Regions from separate parts of the Homo sapiens genome. Here region 2 is linked to region 1. The links come from fine-mapping of genetic effects on gene expression. Tissue or cell type: whole blood. Region 1 holds a variant in brackets; the other region holds the start of a gene. All regions are shown on one strand. Distances are from middle to middle.

Region 1 (4,260 bases):
GGAGGAGTGGATCTGCCCGACATGGGTAAGCTGCCTCCATTCCCACTGTCTTCACGGTCACTCAACTGACACGCTCTTACTCACTCCCTGTTCTTCATCTCTTCCAAGGTTTCTTCCCCTGCTTGGGGGACACAGTTGTCCTAATCAACAGCTGAGGCTGAGCCCAAGTCCAACCAGGAGACAGAAGAGTTTCTGTTGGCTGGGGAGGTGAGAAGGCTGGAGAGCTGATTGCGGATCTTGCCTTTCTCGGAAAGCCCAGAGGGGTCTCTAAGGTTCCCAGACACTTCACATTTTTTGTCCAGGGCTTTTGGTTTCAGCTGCAATTCTGGAACATGGGAAAAAAGAAAATCCACATAACATTCTGTTGTACATTTATTCAAAATACAGAAAAGAAATATTTAAAGAATAAAATAAAGATAACATTCACAAGAGGAACCATGAAATTAACCCTCTCCTGGGAGTATACACTGGAAATCAATTTGGAAATATATAACAAGAGCATTAAAAATGTTCTTAAGAATATAATTAAAGATGCAGAAAAAGATTATGTACTCATGATAAAGCTTATACAAGGAAAAGAAAAAGATCATGTATAAAGATATGCAATATGATGTTATTTACAAGGTATATTTACATTTTAAATTATTTAAAATAGGAAATAACCTAAATTTCCAATAACAAGTAAATGGTTAATTAATTTGGGCTATATCATCATAATGGAATATCATATAGCCATTCAAAGCCATTGTTTTATGAGTTTTAGTGACAGGGAAAATGATTACTATAGGTGTCTGTTCACTGTGTTTTCAAAGTGTCCTAAATTTTCTTTTTTTTTTTTTTTTTGAGACGGAGTCTCGATCTGTTGCCCAGGCTGGAGTGCAGTGGCGTGATCTCGACTCACTGCAAGCTCCGCCTCCCAGGTTCATGCCATTCTCCTGCCTCAGCCTCTCCGAGTTGCTGGGACTACAGGCGCCCACCACCACACCCGGCTAATTTTTTATATTTTTAGTAGAGATGGGGTTTCACCATGGTCTCGATCTCCTGACCTCGTGATCTGCCCGCCTCCACCTCCCAAAGTGCTGGGATTACAAGCGTGAGCCACCGCACCCAGACTTTTTTTTTTTTTTTTTTTTTAATTATTTATTTATTTTTTTCTTTTTTTATTTTTTTGAGACGGAGTCTCGCTCTGTCACCCAGGCTGGAGTGCAGTGGTGTGATCATAGCTCACTGTAGCCTTGACCTCTCTGGCTCAAGAGATTCTCCTGCCTTGGCTTCCCAAGTAGCTGGGACTACAGAGGCACATCACCACATCTGGCTAATTTTTAAATTTTTTTGTAAAGACAGGGGTCTCACTTTGTTGCCCGGGCTGGTCTCAAACTTCTGGGCTCAAGTGATCATCCACACACCTCGGCCTCCCAAAGTGCTGGGATTACAGGTGTGAGCCACTGTGCCTCACCTCAATTTTGTAGGATTTTTGTAGGATTTTGATTCCAATCTTTTCTCTGCCACTTATCATTTGTGTGCCCTGAGTGAGTTCCCGTCATCTCGGTATGTCTGTTTTTCATCTGTGCAATAGGGGTCACAGTACCTACCTCATGCTGGGTTTGAGATCTCCGTGTGCCACATATTAGCTTGGGACCTTGGGCTGATTAGTTGTCCTCTCTGAGCCTCAGCTCCCAAGCCAGGAGGTGGAGCTAATGTGGCTGCCTCCAGGCATTAGCACGAAGATGGGCAGGGATGGCTCTGAGCACCCAGCACAGAGCAAGACCCCTTCACCCGGTAGACACCTGGCAGACGGGAATTACCACTGCTTATGATACAATGGTATTTCCTAAATTTGAAGATAATGTTGAAAGTAAGCTGCATCATGGATTTAATAATAGTGCTTTGAGTGAGAGAGAGAGAGAAAAAAGAAACCAATGTGGCATTCAGTGCATAAGAATAAAATGAGGTGTTGAATAAAAAGACTTGGGCCGGGCGTGGTGGCTCATGCCTGTAAATCCCAACACTTTGGGAGGCCGAGGTGGGTGGATTACCTGAGGTCAGGGGTTTGAGACCAGCCTGGCCAACATGGTGAAACCCCGTCTCTACTAAAAATATAAAAATTAGCCAAGCATGGTGGCGTGCGCCTGTAGTCCCAGCTACTCAGGAGGCTGAGACAAGAGAATCGTGTGAACCCACAAGGCGGAGGCTGCAGTGAGTCGAGATTGCCCCACTGCACTCACTCCACCCTGGGTGACAGAGTGAGACTCAAAGAAAAAAAAGTCGAATTTTTATACACATCC[G/A]TTAGGGACTTTTCACATCATGTGCATTTCCATAAATCTACACATTGTATTTTTGCACAGACTTGTGTTTCTAGGTGTGTCTGGGGCTCCAGGATTCTCTTACAGGAGACGACTGTTCAACTTGTTTTTAAATGAAAACACTAATGTTTCGTTTTATTTTTTTCCCTGCATGAAAAGTAACAATCCACCATAAAGCAAGGGGCATGCCCCCCGACCAAGCCATCCTTGCTCAGGGGTAGAGAGTAACCCTTTGCGGGGAGTGGGTGATAGTGCTAAGATTTGGGTTCTGGTTTTAAGGAGTTATCTAAAGTTTAGTTCTGAAAGAAGACGCAAAGGGGATTTCTCATGGAGGAATGCAAGCCTATGGGACAGAAGGCGATGAGTCAGGAATCGTTGGATTGGGTCACCAAAAGCCTGGGTCCTGATCCAGGATGCTTGTCCCAAAAGGGGCCCCACATACTTGATTAAGAAGGAAAGAGTGAGACCACTGTGAGGGGCAACAGTCAAGGATGGGGGGCAGAAGGGGTCTTTGAATCTGAAGCCCACCAGGGGCTGACTGTCCAGCTTTGATGTGAGCAAGAGCCCCTTTGAGGAGCTGCCCAGGCTAGTTCCTTCCACAGTGGCTCAAAGACAGGAGTGCCTGATCTGCTGCCGACTGGCTGGGAGACTGAGATTTGTTGCAGGCCAACTAGTGCATGTGACCCAGTGTCAGATATATCCCCAAAATATCCCTGGCAAGTGGCGGGATGATCTCCTACCCCTTCGCTTGAGCAGGCCGGAGGCCAGGAGCTGAGACTCCTCATTCTCCATTTCTGTTTACCTTCTCCCCAGCTGGGAACAAAGGACAAGAATTTGGGAGTGACAGGCATGTGGCCACACACTCAAATGCACTTGTTTATACCTGTTTGTTTACTGTTTCAGCAGATTCTTGCTTAGCAATAACTGAGTTTATCTCCTTGTCTTAAGGAAACTCTTAAGAATGTTATTATAATGTAGTAAAATTTAAATGTCTCTTGAATGATGAAGCACTAACTAATGTGCTATATCTAAATGTAGAAATGCACATTTACGAGTATTGTCCTCTCCCGGCATTTTCATCTGAACACTCAGTCTGTTGACAACACTCAAAAACTTCATAAAAGATCACAATCTAGCACTTAAGTTCTACAGATAATGTTGAAATCTTGCACAAGATTTAGGAATCTCAGGCAATGACATGCATAACATTGCTATTAGGAAATGTGTAATATACTCTTCTGTTACTATCAGTGGAAAGTCAAAAAACAAACAAACCATAGTGATAAGAGCTGTGTGAATTAAGGAATTTTAGAGCTGAAAGTGACCTTCGAAATCCTAGAGCCTCACCCATTTTTACCTTCTAATAATCGTGCTGTAAAATATCACACTTACACTGTAGAAAATTTGGAAATATACAGAAGATGTTTAAAATTAGGAAGAAAAGGCTGGGCACCGTGGCTCATGCCTGTAATCCCCGCACTTTCGGAGGCTGAGGTGGGCAGATCACAAGGTCAAGAGATCGAGACCAGCCTGGCCAACATGGTGAAACCCAGTCTCTACTAAAAATACAAAAAATTAGCTGGGCGTGGTGGCGCGCGCCACTGCAATCTGACCTAGCGACAGACTGAGACTCAGTCTCAAAAAAAAAAAAAAATCAGGAAGAAAAAAATCACCCACAATTGTATCACCTACAAGAGGTCACCATTTTTTAAAACTTTGCCGTATTTCCTTTCAGACATGTAAAATTTTTGATATATTTATTTTTTTCTTTTTCTTGCTACAAAAAACTGAGATCGTACAGTTTGTATCCTTCACCCTTTACTTAACATTATATAGTGATAATTTTGCTTTTTATTAAAAACTTTTTGAATATGGAATTTTTATTGATTACATAAAATGTGACAGTATGGCATAGAGTCATAAAATATTTGTAACCGTCATCATAGTATTGAATGTG
Region 2 (4,000 bases), 120 kb after region 1:
CGTCTCAAAAAACAACAACAACAACAACAAAAAACACTCATATCCATCCTAGAGAAGCGTGAAAATGTAAAAGTTCTTGTTCAAAATTCTTGTCAGGTGGGGCGCGGTGGCTCACGCCTGTAATCCCAGCACTCTGGGAGACGGAGGCAGGTGGATCACCTGAGGTCAGGAGTTCGAGAGCCAGCCTGGCCAACACGGCGAAACCCGTCTCTACTAAAAAATACAAAATTAGCTGGGCTGGTGGCGCGGGCCTGTAATCCCAGCTACGTGGGAGGCTAAGGCAGGAGAATCGCTCGAACCTGGGAGACGGAGGTTGCAGTGAGCCGAGATCGCGCCACTCCCCTCCAGCCTGGGAGACAGAGCGAGATCTTGTCTTAAAATAACAACATTTTTGTCAAAAAAATCTGCAAGTTAAGTTCTTTCATGGTGATCCTCGCAAAATAGCATTTCTCATCCAAAGGCCTCAGAACAGCCGCCAGCCGCCGAGCTAACTCGGGACCCTGTTACCGGCTGCTTGGCGCCCTGGTCGGGTGGGTTTTACCTTCTTCAGGGTCCATTCCTCGCCTCGCCCCCCGTTCCCAACCCTCGGGACACTGGAGACTTGCATTTCACAAACGGGTTTGCTCCAGGCCGCACTCCATCCCCGAGGGAAAGCTCCCCAGAAGTTCTGGAGTTGGGCTGAAGGATGTGATGGCAAGATGTGAATGATGTCAGAATCCCCATCTCCAGAGTCCGGCTGGGGAGCTAAGCGCAGGTGAGCTTACATCAGAAGAGAAAGCCAAACCCCCCACACGTCGCTAAACTAGGGCACGGGAATGGCGTGTTATGCAACGGCCGCCGTTCGCGTGGCCACGAAAGCGCTCCTGCGCCTCGGGCCGCGTCCCGCCAAGACCGTGAGCAAACTCGCAGAGTTGGCGCGGCAGCCGGCCGGGAGACGCCGAGCAGGGCCTGGCCGCCCGCAGCCCGGGAGGAACGGCGCCCCCAGGGTCCGGTGGCCTCTGAGGGGCTGACTGGCCCGTGAGCCGGCGGCGCGGCCGCGGGGAACGGGGTGGGAACCGCGCGGCAGTGGGTGAGGCGGCGCAGCCACCGGGGGCTGAGGGGCGGCGCGGCCTCGACTGCGGCACCGCCGTGGGTCCGTCGGCTCGCGGGACGACGGGGCGGCCGGCGGGGGCCAACAGGGCGGGCTCTGAAGGACTGATTGGCCCGTGGGACGATGGCGCGGCCGGGAGGATGGCCCCGGATCCGTGGGACCGCTGCGCCGCCGGACCGGGGGTCCCGAGGCTGTCAGGGGCGCCCGGCCGGGCGTCTAGTGAAAAGCCGATCCCCCGGAGACAGCGGAAGCAGAGGCGCGCCCGGCGCTACGGCCTTTCGGGTCTAGGACACCGCCCCCGGCCCGCGCCGCCCCTGCCCCGCCGGGATCCCGGCCGCCCCGGTCGCCGCACAACAAAGCGGCGCAGCCCCGCTGCCCCCGCCCGACGCCGGCCTCCAACTTCCCCGGCTCCTCTGGAACCGGCTCCGCGGGCTCCGTACGGCCTGGACTACGAGCCGCCGGGCGGGGGCGGCTCCGGGCGGGCGCGGACCGTGGGGGCAGGGCGCAGGGCTCCGTCCGGACAAACTTCCTCGGCCGCCCCGCCGGGCGCCCTTCCCGGAGCCTCGGCACCACAGTAGGTGCGCGGAGCCGCAGGGCTCGACCGCTTCGCGGAAACTCTCGCCACCCTCCGAGCTGCCGCCCCGACCCCAGCTCCCAGCCCCCTCACCTCCAGGGGCGCGGTCTACACCCTCGGGGGCGTCCTGGCCGGCGGCTCCCGGGCCTCTCGCGCCGGGAGACCGGGCACTGGTGGCTGGAGCTGCTGCTGGCCCCGCAGGGACGGGGGAGCCCCGGGCGGCGGCGGTGGCGTGGACGGCGACTGCTCCATCTTCCCGGGGCGCTCACGCCGCGGTTCCAAAGCGCAGACCCAAGTGGGACATTCGCTACATTGTTGGCATTCCACGGGCGTCACGTGACCCCGCCTCCCGCGTCACTCTCGGCCGCATACCAGTCCGGGCGGGGCGCCTGCGGCCCCTGCTCCTCCGCGGCCGCTCCGCCCAGCCCCGCCCGGCCGTGCTTCCTGCCTCCGGCCTCGACCGCCACCTGCCCACGGCCTCCCTGCTGGCCTGCGGTAGCTCGCCAGGGCCTCTCGGACCTATTTGACTGGCTGCTATCTGCCCCCAAACTTGAGTATTTGCCCTCTCGACTGCATTTGTATTAAAAGTTGGTAACTGTCGTTAAAGCCACTATTCTTAAGTATCTCATACCAGTCTTGGTGAAAGAAAAAAAAAAGTTAGCAGGCCTGAAGGAGCCACCAAGTTACCAACTAGTGGCTGGACACTAAAAATAGGGGCAGAAAAGGACAGACGGCTATTGGGACAGTGGAATCAAACAATTAAGAAGGACGTTTGCCAGAAGCGGTGGCTCACGCCTGTAATCCCAGCACTTTGAGAGGTCTAGGCGGGTGGATCACCTGAGGTCGGGAGTTCGAGACCAGCCTGACCAACTTGGAGAAACCCCCGTCTCTATTAAAAATACAAAATTAGCCAGGCGTGGTGGCTCATGCCTGTAATCCCAGCTCTTCGGGAGGCTGAGGCAAGAGAATCACTGGAACCCGGGAGGCGGAGGTTGCGGTGACCTGAGATCGCATCATTGCACTCCAGCCTAGGCAAGAAGAGCAAAACTCCGTCTCAAAAAAAAAAAAAAAAGAACGTCTGATGCACACCCAAATTTAACCTGATTTAATTTAATCAACCTCCCCTCCCCATGTATATTTTCTTTCTGAGAAGTATTTTATGGTGTAGGGAATAGTATAGTACCGTATATACCAGCAAGTGAGGTCGTGGGTTTTGAACAGCTTCACTATCCATTTGAGGACTGTGGATCTGGTACAGGGACAGAAGCAGGGATGGTGCAAAGATTCACAGTAGAAATAATAGACTGGAAGCCAAATCCTCAGTCTACTTCTGGCTCTCCTAACATCATACTTCCTACCACCTATATCTGTGGCAAGTGATGCTGAGGGTCAATATAGTGTTTAAAGTCAACTCGATTTCCTCTTTAATTGACAAACTCTTGTGAAATTTTTAAATTTTACTCTCATGGGAAACAGTAGTAAAGGTCATTATCTGTGCACTATTTTGACAGTCTCACCCAGCCTTCAGTCCCTGGTTCATCCTCCTCCCCTCCCTCTCTTTCAATCTCTTAAGGCCTCAGCTCTTCCAGGGAATCTTCTCAGATCTCTGTTTTCTCTCTTCTTTGGGCTCTGATAATCAAACCGTAATCCCTTCCTGCCAGCAGAAGTGTGCAAAAAAAAAAAAAAGAAACCATCATCGTGCAGCTTAGAATTCAATTTAATTTTTCGATAGTATCCTGTATGCTACCCAGATATCTTGCACAGTACTGGGAGCAAAATAAGTCTCCAGCCAATATTCTGCAATTGAGCCCTACTGGCATTACCTATGTACTTTTCCACATTTTTTCCTTTTTTTCTTAGAGACAGAGTCTCACTCCATTGCCCACGCTGGAGTGCAGTGGCACAATCATAACTTACTGCAGCCCACATCAGCCTTGAACTCCTGAGCTCAAGCCATCCTCCTGCCTCAGCCTCTAGGGTAGCTGGGAACACAGGCGCACACCACCATGCTTGGCCTTCTTTTCACTCTTAAGCTGACTATACTTTCTCCACCCCAACCCCAAGCCACATGGCTGCTAATCTTTTTTTGTTGTGTGTTTAAAGATCCTGCTCCTGCTCTGCCTTCAAAGATGTAAAAATAATTTTTAAAACACTTGTGGAATGAAAAATATTATAAAATAGATTTAATGGACCTTAAAATTTGTGCATAAAATACCTAATAAAAATGTTGCAGTTACAATGATCATTTCAGCATTGTTTGCAGTAGTGAAAAATTGAGAAAAACCCCAAATGTCCAGTCAAGGGGTAGGAAAATGAAAGGTAGATATCCAAATGAT

The links. PIP is the estimated chance that this variant, and not a neighbour inherited with it, causes the effect.
Region 2: LATS2 starts here. The variant in region 1 is fine-mapped to the expression of LATS2 in whole blood (INTERVAL, PIP 0.98).

What each region holds. Positions count from the first base shown.
Region 1 is chr13:20,936,820-20,941,079 of GRCh38, forward strand. LINC00367 (long intergenic non-protein coding RNA 367) reads right to left here. Exons shown (of 6, transcript NR_104058.1): 5 at 3,044-3,116; 6 at 1,745-1,831. Among named protein-coding and RNA genes, the nearest start is that of LINC00367, 10 kb to the right of the region's middle. RefSeq lists an enhancer at 2,781-3,280. The variant G/A (reference allele first, on the strand shown) is at 2,286.
Region 2 is chr13:21,059,589-21,063,588 of GRCh38, forward strand. LATS2 (large tumor suppressor kinase 2) reads right to left here and starts at 1,998. Exons shown (of 8, transcript NM_014572.3): 1 at 1,758-1,998. RefSeq lists an enhancer at 465-1,357 and silencers at 863-1,272, 1,413-2,212.